Linked DNA regions of Homo sapiens: all the other regions are linked to region 1. Evidence: fine-mapped expression QTL. A gene starts in region 1. Each other region holds a variant in brackets. All regions are shown on one strand. Distances are between the middles of the regions.

Region 1 (6,985 bases):
CTGAACCCAAGGCTCAGTGGACCTAAGGGCCTGCCTGAGATAGCCCAGCTGGAGTATGGTACCAGGTGATCCCAGTGGGGACTTGGGGACTTCTGGACCTCAGAATATTTATCATTGTTCCCCTGGCAACCTGGTCCATAGGCTGGGCCAGTCGTTCGCTGCTATTAAGCAGAGAGCTGGCTGAGTGAGTGGTGATGACACCAATTTAACCTGCTCATAGAGCTGGCCTACCTGCAGAAATTAATCACCTCACCTGCCACCTTGCCATTTGTGTACCTTGAAACTGGAGGGTGGAGCCCAAGAGATGCCCACAGGGTGGATAATTTTGACATGGGTAAGTGCCTGTGTTCTGGGAAGTTCAGGAATAACAGGGTGGGATCTCTTTCAGCACTCCCAGGGAGAAGAGCAACCATGGCCAAAGGTGAGACTTGGGTAGATTCCTTAGCCATCTGAGGATTTGGAAGACAATGAGATCTTGCCTTTGCTTAGTACTTTCTCAGGAACTCTCAATGGCCTCAAAAACTGATAAAGACAAGCTTGGCCTTGTTATTCCTGTTTTATAAAGAAACTCACTCGGGGTCTCAGGACTGCTAGGAGAAAACCAGAACCAAGCTGTTCCATCCCCTGGTTCATGCCCTCCCCACCACCACACATCACCAGCGTGAACCCTACTCCATGTCTACAGAGATCATGGCTGTGATAAGCACAAAGCCTGGAGTAAACCACCAGTTTATCCCTGACTCAAGGTGAAACTTTTTGGAGCATTTGTGGCTCTTATATGTATGTAAATTTTAGGAATACTAAATTTGAGGCATTTATTTATTTATTTAGAGACAAAGTTTTGCTCTTGTTGCCCAGGCTGGAGTGCAATGGTGCAATCTCGGTACACTGCAGCCTCCTCCTCCTGGGTTCAAACAATTCTCCTGCCTCGGCCTACTGAGTAGCTGGGATTATGGGTGCCCACCACCACACCCAACTAATTTTTATATTTTTAGTAGAGACAGGGTTTTGCCATGTTGGCCAGGCTGGTCTCAAACGCCTGACCTCAGGTGATCCGCCCACCTCAGCCTCCCAAAGTGCTGGGATTACAGGCATGAGCCACTGCGCCCAGCCTGAGGCAAATATTTAATCTCTTAACCTGTTCAGTGGTTGCTATTTAGTTAACATCGTATCTGGATTGTCCCATGGACATTCAAGAGGATGGAAAAGTCTACTGTGTTTGGAGAGCAGCAAGGGATAGGGACTATGTCTCTTGTTTCTTTTTCTTTCTTTCTTTCTTCTTCTTTTTTTTTTTTTTTGAGATGGAGTTTTGCTCTTGTTGCCCAGGCTGGGGTGCAGTGGCACAATCTTGGCTCACCGCCACCTTCACCTCCTGGGGTCAAGCGATTCTCCTGCCTCAGCTCCCGAGTAGCTGGGATTACAGGCACGCGCCACCACGCCCGGCTAATTCTGTATTTTTAGTACAGACGATGTTTCACCATGTTGGTCAGGCTGGTCTCGAACTCCCGACCTCAGGTGATCTGCCCGCCTCGGCCTTCCAAAGTGCTGGGATTACAGGCGTGTGCCACCGCGCCCGGCCGGGGCTGCTTCTTAACGCGAGAAATTCCATAATTTCTACGGAAATGCAAACGTTTCTGGGCTGTGCTGGGTTGACCTTTTTCTTTGCATGAGTAATGATTCTTAAAAACATCCGTTCCTTGGCCGGGTGCGGTGGCCCATGCCTATAATCCCAGCACTTTGGGATGCCGAGGCAGGCGGATCACGAGGTCAAGAAATCGAGACCATCCTGGCCAACATGATGAAACCCCCTCCCTACTAAAAATACAAAAATTAGCTGGGCGTGGTGGCGCGCGCCTGTAGTCGCAGCTACTCGGGAGGCTGAGGCAGGAGAATCACTTGAACCCAGGAGGTGGAGGTTGCAGTGAGCCTAGATCGCGCCACTGCACTCCAGCCTGAGGACAGAGCGAGACTCCATCTCAAAACAAAACAAAACAAAAATCCATTCCTCTATTGAGACAAAAAAGAAAAAAAATCACAAGATTCACGTGAAACGGAAAAGCCTCTGCCTTTCAGAACCTTGGCAAAGTCGAACCCCCTCCCCTCTCTGGTTGGGTTGGGCTGGAGAAGCCAGCCCCTGGCACCTGCGCCGCCCCTACCTTCCCACCCCGCGGTGGGGGTAGTTGTGCCTCTGAGCCTGAGCACCTCTTCAGCTGTTTTACTCCCTCCCCTCCCTTGAGTTTCCCATCTCTGCCCCCGCCCAACCCCCCGATTTTTAATCTTGGTGTTTGGAAGGAGGGAGGGGGCAAAAACGGGAGCCAGATGTGTACGAGTCCTCCGCTCCCGCCTCCTCCCTCCTCTCGGGCTTCCTAAAACCCGGAGCCCTAATCAAGGAGGATTCGGAGCCAGACGGTCGCGGCGCAAGCAAACAACTCGGCTCCGCGGCTCCCCCGGGAGTGGAAGCCAGGAGGGAGGGGGAGAGGAAGCGGGGCGTGCTCAGTAGGCGGGACAAAGTTTTTTTTTTTTTCTTCTCCCTTTTTTTCGGTCGCAAGTAGGAAGCTTTTTGCACTCCACCACCTCTGGCCGCTGGGAAGACGTCATCGCTTCCGCCCTACTTCCTCCTCCTGTTGGCGGCGGTGAGAATCCAATATGGAGTAAATCGGTGGAGTCGAGAGATGGGGCTCGGACGGGGCGCCCTGCACCGCCTCCCAGGCGCACCTCCCCCGGCCGCCGACCGCTCCCCGGAACCGTGATTGGCCCGGCCCCCCGGGGGCGACCCCGGACTGAGCCCCCCCACCCGCGGCCGGCGCTCTCCTCCTCCTCGCAGCAGTCCCTGCCGCTCCGAGGCGCGCTTGTTTTTCTCCTGCTCTCCCCCACCGCCGTCCCCTTCCCAAATCTCGCCCCCTCTGCCCGCTCCCGAGCCCCCGGAGCCTCCGCCCGCCTCTCCCCACGGCGCTGCGGCGTTCACTCCCCGCGCAGCCTGCCTTTGCACCCCTTCCCCCAAACCCTATCCCGCGCCCTGCTTCCCCTTCTGCTGCGGCGCCCTCTTCATCTCTAGCCGCCCCCCCTCCCCAAATCAGGCGATCTCCGGAGATGTGAAGAAGGGGGGCGAGCGGACAGGAAGATGAAGGGAGCAAAGCTGCCCGCCGCGGGACAGGCGTCTAGGTGAACAAGAAAATGACCGAAGAAACACACCCAGACGAGTAAGTTTGGTCGCGGGGTGGGACGAGGGTGCCCCTCAGGGGCAGCGTGGGGGCCGGGGCTGAGGATGCGGGCGGGGACGCTTATTGGGTGAACTTGGCGTGGGGTGCAGCGACTCGCTGACCTTTCGGCGTTGGGACGCGAGGCTTCCCTGCTTGTTGAAGTGAGGAGAGGGCAAAAACTGCTGCGGGCTGGCGGGCGCACGCCTAGGGTCGGCGGGCTGGTGGCAGCTCCGGGGGCCAAGGGCGTGCGGGTGACCTCCCGGCGGTCTCCGCTCCCTCTCGGAGGACTTACAGCTCCCCCGCCCCCGAAATCCTCGGCGGCTAGAGCGGAAGACCTGACACCCCCACTCCGGCTTCCCGGGGCTGGTGGGTTTTTGCACAGTGACTTTGTGACTCCCGCCGCCCCGCGAGCCCTGCAGTCCGCTCCGGAGCCCACTGGGGCCTAGGCTCCGCCATTTCGTTTTCTTGAATCGCTCTCATTTGCATACCACATTTTCATTCATAAAAAACACGGCGGAGCGAGAGGAGGACAGGCGCGGGCTGCGCGGGGGTCTGGTGCGCCAGGGTCCCCGCGCGGGCCGGCGTGCTGGAGCCGCCCGAGGGGCCCCGCGGCGCGTGAGTGCCTGTGCACGCGCTTGTGGCCGGCACACGCGTCCTGCGGGGTCGGGCGGCTCGGGGCGGACCGAGGCGTGTGCGGCGGGGGCGTGCGGGGCATCGCGCTGGGGGCGCGCGTGTGTGTGTGTGTATGTGAGTGTCCTCGCGGGTGCGCGTGCACGGGCTTGTGCCTGGCCCGCGGGCCCGAGGGGAACAATGCTCGGGGCGCTCCGCCGGAGGGATCCTGGGCCGCCCCGCGCGGGACCCGTGACTGTCGCCAGCCCGGGGCGGAGGTGCAGCTGCCTCCTGCCTCGCGGTCCAGGGGTCCAGTTTGGCATTTTCCCTCCCTGGTCTGAGGCGTTTTCAGTCTCGGGTGCGACGGGGGCGGGGCCGCGGGGCCCGACGCCTCAAGTCTTATGCCTGGGGTTTGAGCGGTCACCGCGCGGCGGCCGCCGCTGCTGCTCAGTGGCTGTGCCCGCCACCAGCCACTTTTTTTTTTTTGTGAATAAGACGCGCTCCTTTATTGTCACATGATATCCCTCCCCTCCTCCCCTGCACATTCATAAATCCGGAGCCTGCATCCGTTCCTTTCATTCAGTGCTGCCATTAGCCAAGGTAGCGGCGGCGCGGGCTTGGGCGCAAAGAGCTGGTTGGCAGCCGCGGGGACGCGCCCTGGAGGGAGGCCCCGCGCGCGTCTTTGCAGGGGAGTGTGGGCTTCGGAAGGCGTGCTCCGGAGGCCCCAGGTCTTTTGCCCCCCGCAGGCATTGAGCCTCAAGAGTGCTGGGAGGGGAAGTGACTCAGGGCTGGGCGACTGGGAGGCTTGTCTCTTGCAGCAGGTGACAGTGCTGTGCCCTACTCTAGGAAATCTACTCACTTTATTAAATATACCCCCTTTATCCTTTGGCGTCTGCTGTTGCCAGTCCGGGCGGGAGTGGGGCTGGTGTTTGGGAAAGGGAATTTCAGTTTCCTTCCTGTGAGTCCCCAGGGAACTTTGACTGCAGTAACCCCTGATCTTCCAGACAGCCGTCACAGGAGAGGATCCCTGCTGCTGTGCCTGTCGCAGACGTCCCACCGCATCTGCTGGTGTTTCTATTTCAGACGTTTTGCTTTGTCTTCGTATATAGCATCTTAAAATGGTAAAATGAAAAAAAGTTGCGCTTTTAGGGCTGAAATACAGAGAAGGAATATGCTGCTGGGCCTTGCTGCCTTTTGAACGTGACCAATAAATCAATATTTTTATGGGCCCTCGATTGTACCTGCACACAGAGTAGCAGTAGTAGCAGTGAGGCTGGTTGCTGTGCTCTGGCCTTGCAGATTCTTGGAGAGGTTTGACCACTCTACCTTGGCTCCACCCCTTGGGAATACAGGCCTGACCTGGCTCTTTTTGTGGCAGCTTGTCAGCCTTGCATCTTTCTCCATCTGCTATCCAAAGCAGAAGGATTTCGAGTGGGATCACCAGCGAGGAAAGAATAGCTCCATTTCAGGCTCTCAGAGCAAGTTCAGCATGAAGCCGTAGCCTCCACTGCTGTCACGAGTCCAGTTGAGAGGATAGATATTTGAGGAGTTCTAGTTTCACTTAGAGACTGAGAAAGCCTTGGCACCTTAGCCACTGAAGAAATGGGCTTATAGGGGTTATTTTTAATGTGATGACCTTGGCTCAAAACTTAAAATGCCTGAGAAGAAAGCGACTTCGTGGGCTGTAAACTGCCATGGTAGCCACTGTCTATTATTTTGTTCAACGTACCTGTGTAATGACGCATCTGAAAAATTCCTTTTAAATGTTAGTGACAGTAAGGTTTTTCTCTCTGAATTACAGAGCTTGCTGTGATTGCTTTTTTGTTGTTTTATTGTTGTTTGCTGCCACTGTCTTTAAGTCTAGAGCTAAAATTATTGTTTGATTAAGGTAGCCATATTTGGTTAGATTTTTGCTAGATTCCTACTTTGGGTGAATTTGATCTGTTTTTTTCTTGTAATGATTTTATGTTTGAGGTCTCTCAGATACCTTTGGAACCAGGCAGGGTTTGCTACTTAAGAGAACTGGTGGCATCAAACTGGAGACCTAGGAAAGATATATTTGTACTTTAGGTAAAATAGACTTGATAGTCTACATGTAGTAAAGGTTTTGTTGAATGGTCCAGATAATATCTGTTTCATTTAGCATCAGAATGCAGTAAATCAGAATCTTGCAAATGGTAAAATTGTGCTTAATTTAAAAAAATAATGTTTTGTTTTCTAATGTTGTTTTCCATGTCAATTTAAAATTCTTCTAATATATGGTAATTCAGGAAAGTTTCTTTGCTCTTGTTGATAATGGTCCCAAAAGATATCTTCCATATAGAAAATACACTGACCATTCTCTTTCGTCCCCCCTCCACATAAAAATGCATGTTAAAATTTACAATTATACAGACTTTTAAAAATATAATTTAAGAAGCGAAGAGCATCAGCAAACTATTGTAAGTCGTCCTCTGTGCATAGGGTTGGAAAATTTTTTTAAATCCATACCTATTTTGTCACTATCTTTAAAGCGTTTGATCATGGCTATGAATGGTTTGGAAATTTGCAGACAAGATAAACCTTACTGAACCAAGCTCTAACCCTGGAGACATCGAGCTGCCATTCAGCTTTTTCTTTTGTTCCTTTCATGAACTCTTCTCTGTAACCCACTTCTTGCTGGGAATGGATTTGCAGCTTCCCTTTCAGTCATATTTTCCCTAACGTTGAAATGTTTCCCATTAATAAAACAGGTGTAAGTATTTTTGCTGAACCATTTCAAAGACATTGCAGACATTGGGACTGTTGTACCTAAATATTTGAGCTTACTTCTCAAGAGATAAAAATACTGTTCTGTGAAACCACAATACTATTATCACATTTTACAAAATTAATAATTCCCTGGTGTCTTTAACACTCTGCCTGAATTGTCTGCAAAAATGTCTTTTATAACTGGTTATTCAGCCAGAGACCAATCGAAGACCCCGAGTTAAATGCGTTTGTAACGTGTATTTAAGGCTTAAGGCTTAGCCATTTGCTCACTTTATGATCTAAGGCAGTTTACTTTCATATGTCATGTCAGTTTTATATGGAGTGGACAAAATGGGAATAGACACTACCTATTTTGTGGAGCTGCTGTGAGAATTAAATGAGACAGCCTACGTAAAGCTTATAGTACAGGGCTAGGCATAAAACAG
Region 2 (6,985 bases), 25 kb after region 1:
GGAAGAACTGGGATGACGAGTATAAATAGTGATTTTAAAAGGAGATTCTGCCTGAGAGGTATAATCAGATGCCATGAACGATGCTAAAGAACCCAGCATGGGCAGGAGAGAGACAGAGAGAGAGCGAGAGAGACACCCCTGTGTAGGCTGCTTGCAGATCATTTGACACCTGCACATGAAGGATTTTTGTTTGTTTGTTTTCTTTTCAGTTAAGAGACAAGGTCTCACTGCATCATCCAGGCTGCAGTGCAGTGGCATGATCAAAGCTCACTGCAGCCTCGAACTCCTGGGCTCAAGTTATCCTCCTGCCTCAGCCTCCCAAAGCATAGGTATTACAGGCGTGAGCCATTACGCCTGGCCTTGCACAAGATGTTATACTTTTTTTTTGCATTTAAAATTATTCTTTTTTTTTTTTTTTTCCGAGGCAGAGTCTCACTCTGTTACCAAGTTGGAGTACAGTGGTGCAATCTTGGCTCACTGCAACCTCCACCTCCCTGGTTCAAGCGATTCTCCTGCCTCAGCCTCCCAAGTAGCTGGGACTACAGGCACGCGCCACCACACCTGGATAATTTTTGTATTTTTAGTAGAGGGTTTCACCATATTGGCCAGGATGGTCTTGATCTCCTGACCTCGTGATCCGCCCGCCTTGGCCTCCCAAAGTGCTAGGATTACAGGCGTGAGCCACCATGCCCAGCCTAAAATTTCTCTTGAAAGTCTTCATCAGAACACAAAATTCTTTTTTTTTTTTTTTTTTTTTTGCAGGAAACTGGAGTTTTATTAGCACTCAAATCAGTCTTGCCAGGAAACAAAATTCTTGTTACTAGAAGTGAGGATGTCAAGGTGGCTTTATTCATTTTTAAATAGTGCATGAGATGTAAATTGCTAAAAGCTGTGTTATTATAGGGAGGCAGTAGAACTTGGTAAAATCATAGGATTTAGACTAGTGCTGTCCAATAGAAATACAACATAGGCCACATATGTAATTTTAAATGTTCTGATAGGGGTGTTAAAAAAGTAAATAGAAACAGGTGAAATTAATTTTAGTCTATTATTTAGTGTATCTAAAAATTCTCATTTCAACAGTTAATGTTTTAAATTGCTAATGAAGTATTTCACATTCTTTTTTTGTACTACACCTGCAAAATGCCGCTTGTATGTTATAATTGGAGCACATCTCCATTTTCATGTGCTCAGTGCCACTTGTGGCTGCTGGCTGCTACTGTGTTAGACAGTACCTCTTAGACTAGGACAGACCTGGGTGTGAATTTCCCTTTGCTGCTTATTAGCTGTGCGACCAGTGTTAAATTACCTGAACCTTTCAAAAACTTCAGTGTCCTTGAATATAGAAAAAGGGCTCATAATACTTCCTTTTCTGGGCTGTTGTATTAAGTCAGTTGATTTATGTGCATAAAGGTCTGGGGTCGATGAAGAGGTGATCTGTAAATGACATCTGTGACTTTTGAGATATCTACAGGTAATTGTGGTCTCACACAGGCTAAGGACTATAGGATATAAGGGTTATGATGAAAGGCAGAATTAGGGCAATATTTATGGGCTATTAAGAACTTTAGAGCCAGGTGCAGTGGCTCACGCTTGTAATCCCAGCACTTTGGGAGGCCAAGGCAGGCGGATCACAAAGTCAGGAGTTCAAGACCAGCCTGGCCAGTATAGTGGAACCCCATCTCTACTAAAAATACAAAAATTAGCTGGGTGTGGTGGCACGTGACTATTGTCCCAGCTACTCAGGAGGCTGAGGCAGAAGAATTGCTTGATCCCAGAAGGCAGAGGTTGCAGATCGCGCCACTGCACTCCAGCCTAGGTGACAGAGTGAGACTCCGTCTCAAAAAAAAAAAAAAGAACTTCAAAAGTCCCCTTATGTAACTGACTAATTCCTGTGGCTGGCGACTGGGATTATACATACAGACATTGGAAGGGGGCTCTGGTTCTGGTCCGAGCAATTTGCCTGGAGCTCTATGATCAATTCAGAGAAGAAGGGATACAAGGAATTCCTACAGGAATCTGTGGCATCATAAAAACAGCTTCTGCCTCAAAGTCAGGGGAGCTGATTTTGAATTCTGACTCTACCTTATACTGCATATTTATCTTCCCAAACTTTAGCTTTCTTGTCTGTCAAATAGGACTCATAGTATGAGGCTTGTGAGGATTAAATTACATGTAGCACATGAAAGTGTCCGCAGCAGTGTCTGACATGTTTGAGGTGCCTAATACATGCCGGGTGATCATTACTGGTGTCTGGAAAGAAGTTTCAGCCTAAAGCTTTGTTGAAAGGACCCAAGGTCTGGGCAGAAGGGAAGGATCTTGCTCCTCTGATAAGATCTTAAGAAGATGGAACCAGCAGGCAAGGAGAGAAGCTCAAGAGACTGGTTTTATGAGGAGCTGAAATCAGACTGATGGGTAAAAGGAAGATAGCCTGGGTTGGTGGCCTATTAGGGAATGCCTCTCTACACAGGGACCATGTCATAATCGTTTTGATAACATTCTTTCTTCTTGCCCCTTTAGACCTCTGGCTCCCTTGCCCAGCTTTTGATATTTTGTTGTTGTTTGTTCTGAGAAGTAAAAATATAGCTAGAGCTTTGCACTCGGTCATGTTAGTATTTTAAGACACTCCCAAGAGTGGAAGAGAGAACTGTCCTCCAGTTGGAGTTATGGGGAGGTTCCCTGTGCTCCACCTTTCCCACCCTTTTCTGTCTACCTGTGTGCACGGAGGCATGAGTGGATACCGCGTCTCCACGGGTGAAAGGACAAGTGATCCAGCTGAGGAGAGTTGATCTTTTGGTTTAACCAAACCAGACACCCAAACCTAGATTTCCAAGGCATGTGAACAGGGATGTGCATGACAGTCATTGACATGAAGACTCAGAATGAGATAAGCTTTAAGTTGGCAGCACTTCCCACCCCCTGCAGAGAGGAAGTTTGCATGCCATGCACCTACCTTCTTGATTGCAGCTCTCATGGCTACACAGCAATAGATTAGAACCCCCTCGTGCTGAATCTTGACTTGATGAAGACAATCAAAATGCCCCCCAAAATGCCCCCCAATACACAACACACGCACACACACACACCTGCAGCCACCTCAGTTTCCTGTTAAGTTATTGTGGTTTGGGAGTCTTCATTGTCAGTTCACATTAGCTGTGAAGTCAGAATCCTTCTGTCATGGGACTTTTAGCAAAAAAAAAAAAAGGAGCCAGCGCCCCATTTGAGAAAGAGACTATGGCTCACACCTGTAATTCCAGCACTTTGGGAGGCCAAGGCGGGCAGATCATGGGGTCAGGAGATCGAGACCATCCTGGCTAACATGGTGAAACCCCATCTCTACTAAAAATACAAAAAATTAGCCGGGCATGGTGGTGGGTGCCTGTAGTCCCAGCTACTCAGGAGCTGAGGCAGGAGAATGGCGTGAACCCAGGAGGTGGAGCTTGCAGTGAGCCGAGATGGCACCACTGCACTCCAGCCTGGGCGACAGAGCGAGACTCCGTCTCAAAAAAAAAAAAAAAGAGAGACTAAACTTTCCACTGTCCAGTAACTTGGACCAGAGCCC[T/C]GCCTGAGCCTCCAAGGCAGGCAGCTTGATGGAGGGCCCTGCCTCACTCTCAAGGCTGAGCTCTCAGGAAAGGTGGATTTTATCTCTAAGGAAGTGCGGCTGCCTTTATCAGGCCATTCTGGTGGAACAGGTTAGCTTCCTGCAAGGGTGGAAAGGAAAACGATGTTACTATTTTTAGCCTGCCTCTTGTGTACAGCAAGGTGGGCTGATGTGCTAAGCAGAAGGAAAGTGAAGTGTGAGTTGCTTTCTGCCCCCAACCTTCCATTTCCACCCCTACTTCCCAAAACCTCCCCCAGAGGTGGAATGTCAGGACATCTCACATGTGGTGCACGAAGAGTATAATGACCAACTTTATTTCTACAACTAGTGAGGCTCCTTGTCACTGCCTTTCTAAAAGCTTGCAGTCTTACAAACAAACTTGTGTGCACAGACATGAGTGGATAAAATATTGGGTCCTGCCTAGCAAAACCAGGATCTTTGATTTGGGGGGAAGGGTTGGTGTTGCTCTCTGTTAACATTTCCATTTATTCTTGACCTCTATAAAGAGTAAATTATAAGAATGGGGTGGGAGGATTGGAAAGTTGGTGGATGGTAAGTTTGGGTGTCAAGTATTAAGAAATCCTGGCTTCTCAGCATTTTCTTTGCAGGGCACATTTAGCAGAATTTTCTGCCTCCAGCAGGGTCTTTGTGGCTCTGAAGGACCTGCCACCGTGGGGTGGTTCGCTTTTATAATCTCATGGTAGCACTCTCAGCCCAAAGAAGTGTCATCACCAACATAGAGGCCAGGAGCACCATTTAACAGATGAGGACTCTGAGGCCTGGGGAGTTAAACCCAGGTCACACAGTTGGATAGTGGGAGAGTCTGGTTGCCTGGTTGTTTTTCTACAGGGCTCCTCCAAATGAGTGCCAGGAAGAAAGTGCGGGGGTGTTCTGCCCATTGCAAGAGGGTCAGCTTGGAGAAATAGGTTTGAATTATGGAGTGCCTGACAGAAAGTGGGAACAGTCACTTAGCAAAGAAGTCCGGGTCTTCTCAAATAGGAGTGCTCTGGGTGGGAGGAGAAGGGCTGGTAAGCCTGAGGACTTGTGGAGGAGCTCAGATGTAGCTGCTTAAATTAGTTCAAAGTGAGAAATGTAATTACTATACTTGCTCAAACCAAATGTCTGAACATTGTTATAAAATGAGGTGTAATCACAGAAAAGAGGATTGCAGTGCCGTATCACTCCCACAAAATAGCCTTTGTGTTCTCAGGAGCCCCATGGTGCTGATTAATCTTCTGGGGGCGTTGAAGCCCCAGTAAGTTCAGGTGTGTGTATTGGACTTAATTGGGGGAGTTTTGTCCTGCTCGTTTGGACAGTCATTCACAGTTATTTGCATTTGTAATGAGTGTGTGATGAGAGGGGGAAAAGACTCAGCCTTAAACATGTTAGCTAGGAATATTTGGGATCAGAATAAAATAAGATCCAAGCAAGAGGGAAAATCGAGGATGATTTGCAGCAATTTGTCCTTGTTAACTGCTATTTGAATGATAAAAGGAAGGTTGAAAAGGACATTTCAGTAACTCCCTGGATAACGACTTCCTCTATCACTATCACTATATATCACCTCAATGACTATGTCATCTCCATGCTCTTCTCCACCAAGGTGGAAAGTACCATAAGAAGGTCATTAAGTCCTGATTCTGCCACTTGTTGGTCATGAGACGTAGGGTAGTGACATAAACGCTAAGCCTTAATTTTCTCTCCTGGAAAATGGGCTGATGTATATACATTTAGATGAGCTAATGCTTGGCACATAAGAAAAGCACACGGTAAATATTAGCAAATTGTCATTATTGTCATAATTATTGTTTATAGTATCTCTACAACGTGTTTATAACGTGTGACAGAAGAAAAACACCTTGCCAGATGTAGTCACAAGGCAGGAGGGAAAGTGAGGAATTAAAGGCCTGTTAGGGAGCAGGTGCCTGGAGCTAAGTGAGGTTAGATCATAAAAGGGCCCAGGGGTGTGCTGTTGTTGGGGGAGGTGTTTGTTTGGCAGAAGGGAAAGGTGGTCTGTTCATGCTGGGGAGGTAGTACATGGATAACTGGGCTGTGCCCTCATTTGTAAGAAACAGGCACGTGTTTTTTATAGACCTACAGCCAGTCCTGTTTGCTCGCTAGGTGGCTTCTCTTTGATCTTGTGTCCCAAAGTTGGGGGTCTGTTGACACTCCAGCTCCTGGGGACCCCAGGTCCCCTCTCTCTGCACAGGAGGCAAGGTGTCTGCCTGTTTTACTCATTGCTGTCTTCAGTGCCTGGCATAATAGAGGCTCAAGAAGTATCTGCTGAATGAATGAATAGGGTATAGTATGAATGAATATCTGCATTAAATTATGTGCTCCTAGAGAAAACTCCCTGAGAAACTCATTACTGAGACTGTTTAGCCATCCAATAAAGAGATGAGAGGAGATTTTGAAACAACTTGGTTTGGCATAGACAAGTAGTATATACTTGCGCTTATATCTAGTTTCCATGCAGTTCACTAATACATGTAATATATATGGTTAACTTTGTGAGTATATTTGATTACAGACTTTCCCTTTATTTAACATGGTTGCCTGCCTACACATAATTCTTAAAACAATTAAGGAGAACATTACTAGCACAAATGTTTCTTCTTTTTCTTTCTTTCTTTTTTTTTTTTTGAGACGGAGTCTCACTCTGTTGCCCAGGCTGGAGTGCAGTGGCGTGATCTCGGCTTACTGCAATCTCCGTCTCCTGGGCGTTCAAGAGTTCTCCTGCCTCAGCCTCCTGAGTAGCTGGGACTACAGGCATCCGCCACCATGCCCAGCTAGTTTTTGTATTTTTAGTAGAGACGGGGTTTCACCATGTTAGCCAGGCTGGTCTCTAACTCCTGACCTAAGGTGATCCACCTGCCTCGGCCTCCCAAAGTACTGGGATTACAGGAGTGAGCCACCACACCTGGCCACAAATGTTCCTTTTTAGGAAACTGATTCTCCTGCTGCTTCTGGAGTAGAGTGTTGTATATGAAATTTTGAGCATGATATTCACCTAATTATGGCTCAGAACAGGCAGTACCAAGCACCTGAGGTCTAGGCCTTTCAGACCAGTGCTTTGATATGCATGTGAGTCACGTGGGGTCTTCCTGCTAAGTTGCAAGTTCCCATTCAGCAGGCCTGGGGTGGGGCCTGAGATGGTGCTTTTTTCTTCAGCTTTTGGGTGCTGCCCATGATGCTACTCCTTGGACTACATTTCCACTAATGCGATTTCAATTAGTCTTTAGTATTTTGAGGATTTCTTTGTGTCGTAAAAATGTCTATCCCAGATGGGCGTAGTGGCTCACGCATGTAATCCCAGCATTTTAGGAGGCCAAGGTGGGGGGATTGCTTGAGCCCAGGAGTTCAAGACCAGCCTGGGAAACTCCA
Region 3 (6,985 bases), 110 kb after region 1:
TCTATTTTGTATACAAAATACTTTGTATTTTACAAAGATGGGGTTTCACCATGTTGACCAGGCTGGTCTCCAACTCCTGACCTCAGGTGATCCATACCCCTTGGCCTCCCAAAGTGCTGGGATTACAGGCATGAGCCACTGCACCTGTCCTAATCCTGTGGTTCTTGAATCAACTAAGCAACGGGCTTAGTCCAACTCCTCTAACCTGTAATGTTCTTAGGAGCAGGTGAGAGGCATTGCACATGAAATTGTTAGGGCTCAAACAGACCTTGGAAATCATCTAGTTCAACTCCCTCATTTTACACATGAGAAAACTGAGGCCCCCAAAAGTTAAACAACTTGTCCAAGATATCTGGCCTGGCCTGAAATTGAGGTTTTCGAATCTCCCTGTATAGTGCTATTTTTGCTTAGCAGTGCTACATGATTCCTGAATGATGTGGTCTAGCTCCTTAAGCAGTTTCTTTAACATTGTTTTCTATGGCCCTATTCAAAACACGTAGGCCCACTGATCTCCCAAATGGGCTGGTCAGAGAGGGCTTGGCTCTTTGCACATTGTGATTTCTGCAGTCAGCCCTTGTGTTCCTGGGAACATGAGGATGATGAAGTGGCTGTACTTGTTTCCTTGCCTCTTGAGAGGAGGGGTTTGTCCCTTTTATCTCCCTCCCTAAGAAGAAGGAAGAAATTACACATTGCCAGCCCTCTAATAGTCTCACCCATGTACTGGATGGGAGCATCCTACTTGAGAAGGCTGTGAACCAGGTGCCCCTTGATAATAATTCCAAGTGTCCTTGAGAAAACAGCCCAGGCACACCTTTTCTTTCCCATAGCACTTTTTGCCAACTGTTGCCTCCTTGTCCTCTGCCCCTACCCTCTTTTAGAAAGCAAAGGTTTAGCAGGAAAACCTAGAGGACTTGAAGGGATGCGCATAGTACTGAAAAGACCTGCGAAATGTGAACGTTGAAATCTGTCCGGCTCGTCCTGAAGACACAGAAAGTGCCCCCAAAAAGTCCTGGGTCAGCAGCCAGGATTCCATCCCAGAATGGACAATTTAAGCAACCTGTCTCCTCAGCTCGTCTGGCCTGGTGGTTCCTTCCCTCCCTCCTTGAGCTTCCCTTGGTCAGAGAGGTGGCCTTCTACATGAAGAAGGTTCATTCTTGGACCCAGGGCGTGTGAGCTGCTGCACTTGCTTCTTTATGAATTTCCCAGTAAACTCAAGGTCCCTCCATAAGAGAGGGAAGAGTAGCCAAGCTTCCAAGAACAAGAGATCATATTGTACAAAAAAGGCTCATACAGCAGGAGGGAGCTGGCTCAGGTTTAACCTGAGGTGTTGCCCTGTTAGTCTCGTTTCTCCATTCAGGCTGATTCCCACCCAAACCAGACAGCATTGACCTTGGGGAAACTGCCAGTCCATTAGCCCAGGCAGTTTCAGCCCAGTGTCTTTTGCACTCAGATTTTGATTGATTGTCAAGCCATCATAACATTAAGGTCCATTATTATTTTTTAAAATTCTGTCTCAAGTTTTGAAGCTCCATGGAGTTGCTCTCATTTGTCATCAAACTCTAGAGTTATGGGAAATATCTGAATTCTCAAAATAAGTACAGCCTGTGTCTATAGAATCTGGCAACTGGAAGCCTGCTCTTTTTTTGGAGATGTTGATCAGATGTTCACTGATAAACTTGAGCCCCCTTTTCTTCCTCTGGTCTACCCATCTAGAATGCTATGACCCATCTCAGACACACCCCTCTGGGAAGCTGCCTGACTCTGACCAGTGCTCTGAGGCCTGGTGCTTGAGGACTGCTCACCTGGCCTTGCCTCTTCCCGTGCCACGTGGCATCTCCCCCAACAACATGGTCACTTTCTGTGTCTGAGCCCACATCCCGCAAAGCACCCAACCCAAACCCAGAAACCCTTCTGGGAAGGGATGGATTTTTTTGAGACGGAGTCTTGCTCTGTCGCCCAGGCTGGAGTGCAGTGGCGCGATCTCGGCTCACTGCAACCTCTTCCTCCCACGTTCACGCCATTCTCCTGCCTCAGCCTCCCGAGTAGCTGGGACTACAGGTTCCTGCCACCACGCCCAGCTAATTTTTTGTATTTTTAGTAGAGACGGGGTCTCACCGTGTTAGCCAGAATGGTCTCGATCTCCTGACCTCGTGATCTGCCCGCCTCAGCCTCCCAAAGTGCTGAGATTACAGGCGTGAGTCACCGCGCCTGGCCAGGGATGGATTTTTTTTTTTTTACTACCATAGAGGATTTGGACAGGCCAGCCCTGTCCCTGTTTCTTGTTTTTTTAAATGTTGGCAGTGCCCACTTTCATTTCTGTACCCTCTGACACCTGCTTTCACCCCCTTCCCTTCTCTTTTCTTACTCTCTCCTTTCTGGGTTCTTCCTCATCAAAGGCTTGTCTCAGCTCACTGCCCTGTTAGAGGGCTTTAGAAACCAGGTCACACAGAGCTTGTTATTTGCTACTCAAAGTATGTGGTTTTTTTATAGTTACCATAGAAAAATTTGACAGTGGGCCAGGTGCAGTGGCTCATGCCTGTAATCCCAGCACTTTGGGAGGCTGAGGTGGGCGGATCACCTGAGGTCAGGAGTTGGAGACCAGCCTGGCCAACATGGCGAAACCCTGTCTCTACTAAAAATATAAAAAATTAGCCAGGTGTGGTGGCACGTGCCTGTGGTCCAGCTACTCAGGAGGCTGAGGCATAAGAATCGCTTGAACCCAGGAGGCGGAGGTTGCGGTGAGCCAAAATTGTGCCACTGCACTCCAGCCTGGGCGACAGAGCGAGACTCTGTCTCAAAAAATAAATAAATAAATCACATCACATATTAGTAAGGCATATTTAGTGAAAGACCGGTAGAATGTATCTGAGGAATGCAAAGAAGGTTTATGTTGGAAAAGCTGTTTAATTCACATATTAATAAAATAAAGGTGAAAGATTTTGTAATCATCTCAGTAGACAGAAAAATCATCTAATAACATCTAATATCTGGTGAAAATCCTTAGCAATCTAGAATAGAAGGAAACTTTTGGAACTTTATAATCACTCCAATTACCTAGAAATATTATATCTAATAGAAATTCATTAGAAGTAATTCTATCAAAGTCAGGTTCAAGACAAGCAGGACACTGTCCCCTCTGTTTTTCCATGTCATGTTGGAAGCCCTGGCAAAAGATGCAATGAGGTAAGAAGAAGATGGTATAAATATTGGAAAGGAGGCCGGGCACGGTGGCTCACGCCTGTAATCCCAGCACTTTGGGAGGCCAAGGCAGGTGGATAACGAGGTCAGGAGATTGAGACCATCCTGGCTAACAAGGTGAAACCCCATCTCTACTAAAAATACGAAGTATTAGCCGGGTGTGGTGGCAAGTGCCTATAGTCCCAGCTACTTGGGAGGCTGAGGCAGGAGAACGGCGTGAACCTAGGAGGCAGAGCTTACAGTGAGCCGAGATCGTGCCACTGCACTCCAGCCTGGGCAACGGAGCAAGACTCCGTCTCAAAAAAAAAAAAAAAAATA[T/A]ATATATATATATATATATATAGAGAGAGAGAGAGAGAGAGAGAGAGAGAGAGAGAGAGAGAGGAAAGGAGACCAAACTATCTTTTGTGAGCAAAATGATTTACTTAGAAAAATCTAGTTTCATAAGGGAGCTAAGCAAAACAACCAGATACAGGATCAACATACAGAATCAGTAACTTTCATATACCAGCAGTCACAGTTTAAAATAGAAATTTTTAGGCCAGGCGTGGTAGCTCATCCCTGTAATCCTGGCACTTTAGGAGGACAAGGTGGGCAGATTGCCTGAGCTCAGGAGTTGGAGACCAGCCTGGGCAACCTGGTGAAACCCCATCTCTACTAAAAAAATCAAAAAATTAGCCAAACGTGTTGGCACGTGCTTGTAATCCCAGCCACTCGGGAGGCTGAGGCATGAGAATCGCTTGAACCCAGGAGGCGGAGGTTGCAGTGAGCTGAGATTCCGCCGCTGCACTCCAGCCTGGGTGACAGATCAAGGCTCTGTCTCAAAAAAATGTATAGCAAAATAGAAATTTTAAATCCCATTTTATTTTTGCCATAACCCCAAGGAAGATTTTGGCCCAATTTTACAGATGTAAACACTGGAGTTAGAGATTAACTTGACCAAAATCATCTTATAATTAGCAGAGAATGATTCAAATCTAATCTGCCTGAGCTGAGACCCTGTTGTTTTTAGCATTGTAATACTCCCCTCGTTTCTGTTGTTCAGTGCCTCATATTAGGTTGCACACTTCTTAATTGGACATCTTTTTTTTTTTTTTTTTTTTTTTTTTAGACAGGGTCTTGATTTGTTGCCCAGGCTGGTCTCGAACTCTTGACTTCAAGCGATCCTCCTACCTCAGCCTCCCAAAGCGCTGGGATTACAGGCATGAGCAGCTGCACCCAGCTGGACATCTTTTTAGCAACAGGCATTGACATTGAGTCAGAGTCAAACCCAAAGGCAAGAGTGTTTTTAGAGGGTACATTTGCAGGTGGCAAGGGCTGTGCTCCCTGCATCATAGTGCACAAGACCTCCCAGTGTCAGCTGGGGCCAGATGGCAATGCCAGCCTCAGTGTCCACAGCAGGAGACATTAAACGCCCACTCTGACCTGCTCTCTCAGGATGCTGCAGTCATGCCTTCTAGGAGCCTGAAGTCCCCGAGCACAGAGTAGTCACAGGGGACCTCTGCTTTTGTTCTTCAAAGCCCTAACAGTTCTTAGACCCCCACTGGAGAGCAAGGGGAGTGTAGATACAGTTGGGAGCATGTGATTGCCAACTTTTTCATTGAAGGTGACAGCTTTCAGATTGGTAGGTTGGTAGGTGTCAGTAGCTTGTGCACAGAAATAACAGAGAGATGTTTAAGAATCTTGCTTGTGTATTAGGTATGTGCATACCTCAGGTGGGCTGCTTTTCTGCAGCCCACGGAAACCAGGGCAGAGTTATAGGAGAGCCAGTTCAGAGGTGCATGAGGGTAAAAGGAGATTTTTTTTCCCCTTTGCCTTTCTTGGAGATGCCCTGGTAGTACATTCCTTTTGTTTGTAGGTCACACTAGCTGCTTTGTAAGAATCATCTGTTAGTATCCATCTGAAATAGCCTTGGCTTCCAATGGAATCTTCTGGGAGTTCAGACAACCCTGAACAGCTGGGCCTGGAAGACTGCAGGCTCGGCTAGGACGCAACCTCAGCTCTGCCCTCAGGAGGCAGTAGACTGTGGACATGCCTCTCGAGGTCTTCTGGCCTTCTTGCTTCACTGTAGAAATTCGTCATCAGATAAGGCCTTTCTCAGTCTCACATCCTCTGACAAATGTCTGGGGAGCTTTGCACTGGACTGTGCAGGGAGAGAGGGCTGGGGAGGTGGGATGGGAATATCGGAAGGTAGCATTTCTGATCGACTAATGAGTCCTAGGAAAAGCCGGATGTGCCTCATTTCTCAGAAGGACTTTCTACACATTGTTAACCCAAAAGTGGGTCACAGAAAATAGGCTGAGTTAGGGTGAACAGATGACTAACACAGTGGTGACCGTGGTGTGTTAAATGGGCTTCTGAGAACTAAGTACTGAGAGCTTATTACAATGTTCAACACAAGGCTAACTTCTAACCTAATAGATGACTGTAACGTGGCTGTTGGATAAGAATTTAACTCTTGAGATTTGAATCACACTGAAAGGCCCTGATTACTCATTTGAGAGGTATTTATTGAGATCTGTAGTAACCTTTGTACTGTGAGACATCATCTCCTCATCTCCTGGGTTTGTATACAGCAGGGTGTACCTTGTGACTTGGAGAAGTTGTGTTTTGTGTTAATCTCAACAAAATACCTCTTAGCATAGGAGCTGGAAGTGGACTTACCTGGCTGTGAGAGGCAGCAGTGTGTGGGGCCTATTAGAAATCTCCCTGGGCTTTGTGGTCAGGGAGGCTGCATTTCAGTCCCAGCTCTGCCAGTGACTGTGCTGCCATGGCCTGGATTCACCATCTCTCAGAGTCCCTTAGTGCCAGTGTGTGACATGGAGATAGTGTTTTACCTGTGACCTGCTGGCCATGCTGAGGAACCGTGTCCACAAGTAGCTCAGGGCCTGGCACACCATAAGCACTCACACATATGACACCAAGAAGAGTTGTTTGTGAGGAAGAGGAGGGAACCTGGGGAGGAGTAAGGGGTAGAGAGAAGCCAGGAGTGTGGTGCCTGTGGGACTGCTTTGGAAGGAATCCATAGTGAAGGGAAAGTGCACCCAAGTGACAAACCCAGTGTATTCTGGCTTAAGTCACAAAAGAGAATTGGTGTCATCATTGGGACATCCTCGAGTGGTCAGGATTCAGGCTTGGCTGGATCCAGCAGCTCAAAGGGACTAAGGGTGGCTTCTCTTGCTCCCATCCTCAGACAAGTCCTTTCCCCACACCCGTGCCAGGATTCAAGGCTTATAGGACCCTTAGATCTTGATTACAGAAATGGAGACAGCTGCTTTTCTGACCGCTCTGTCAAAAGTCTCTCTATATTGCTTCGGAGAGCACCGTGTGTTCATATTGAAATTAGTCACCATGGCTTGGGGGATCAGAAGCAGGCATCAGCCATGCATGGCATAGACCAAACCCAAGTAGAGAAACATCCAGGAGGGTTGGGTCTCCAGAGGGATGCTGCACATGTGGACCAAGGTGTAAAAACTAACAATGCTTATGTTGCATAATGGAAATATGGGTGTGTTTTTCCTAAATTCTTGTAGTGCTTTTTTTCTAAGTATGTACTACTTTATAAATGAGAGGAGGATAAAAAGAACTTTTGTAAGTCTATTTGTTTTGCCCTTGTCCCTAAAATGATTTATGATAGCTAACAAAAACATGTAAAGTGATAGATAAGTCAGGGTATGGTGGCTCATGGCAGTAATCCCAGCATATTGGGAGGCCAAAGCAGGAGGATCACTTGAGCCCAGGAGTTCAAGACCAGCCTGGGCAACTTGGCAAGACCCCCGTCTCTACAAAA

Direction of the effects. Alleles are on the strand shown, and positions count from the first base shown. SD is a standard deviation of normalised expression in the study named. Not every link is listed here.
With allele T in place of A in region 3, the expression in lymphoblastoid cells of the gene that starts at base 2,563 in region 1 is lower (large effect, 1.2 SD a copy in GENCORD).

The links. PIP is the estimated chance that this variant, and not a neighbour inherited with it, causes the effect.
Region 2: its variant is fine-mapped to the expression of SPRED2 in anterior cingulate cortex (GTEx, PIP above 0.99).
Region 3: its variant is fine-mapped to the expression of SPRED2 in lymphoblastoid cells (GENCORD, PIP 0.95).

The regions. Positions count from the first base shown.
Region 1 is chr2:65,428,177-65,435,161 of GRCh38, reverse strand. It overlaps SPRED2 (sprouty related EVH1 domain containing 2), which reads left to right and starts at 2,563. Exons shown (of 6, transcript NM_181784.3): 1 at 2,563-3,200. The coding sequence starts at 3,175. RefSeq lists silencers at 2,661-2,860, 3,631-3,680, 3,711-4,220.
Region 2 is chr2:65,403,465-65,410,449 of GRCh38, reverse strand. All of the region lies in intron 1 of SPRED2 (sprouty related EVH1 domain containing 2), which reads left to right. Among named protein-coding and RNA genes, the nearest start is that of SPRED2, 26 kb to the left of the region's middle. RefSeq lists an enhancer at 3,461-3,510. The variant T/C (reference allele first, on the strand shown) is at 3,563.
Region 3 is chr2:65,318,824-65,325,808 of GRCh38, reverse strand. The region is part of intron 4 of SPRED2 (sprouty related EVH1 domain containing 2); the gene reads left to right. Among named protein-coding and RNA genes, the nearest start is that of ACTR2, 94 kb to the right of the region's middle. RefSeq lists an enhancer at 2,231-2,320. The variant T/A (reference allele first, on the strand shown) is at 3,517.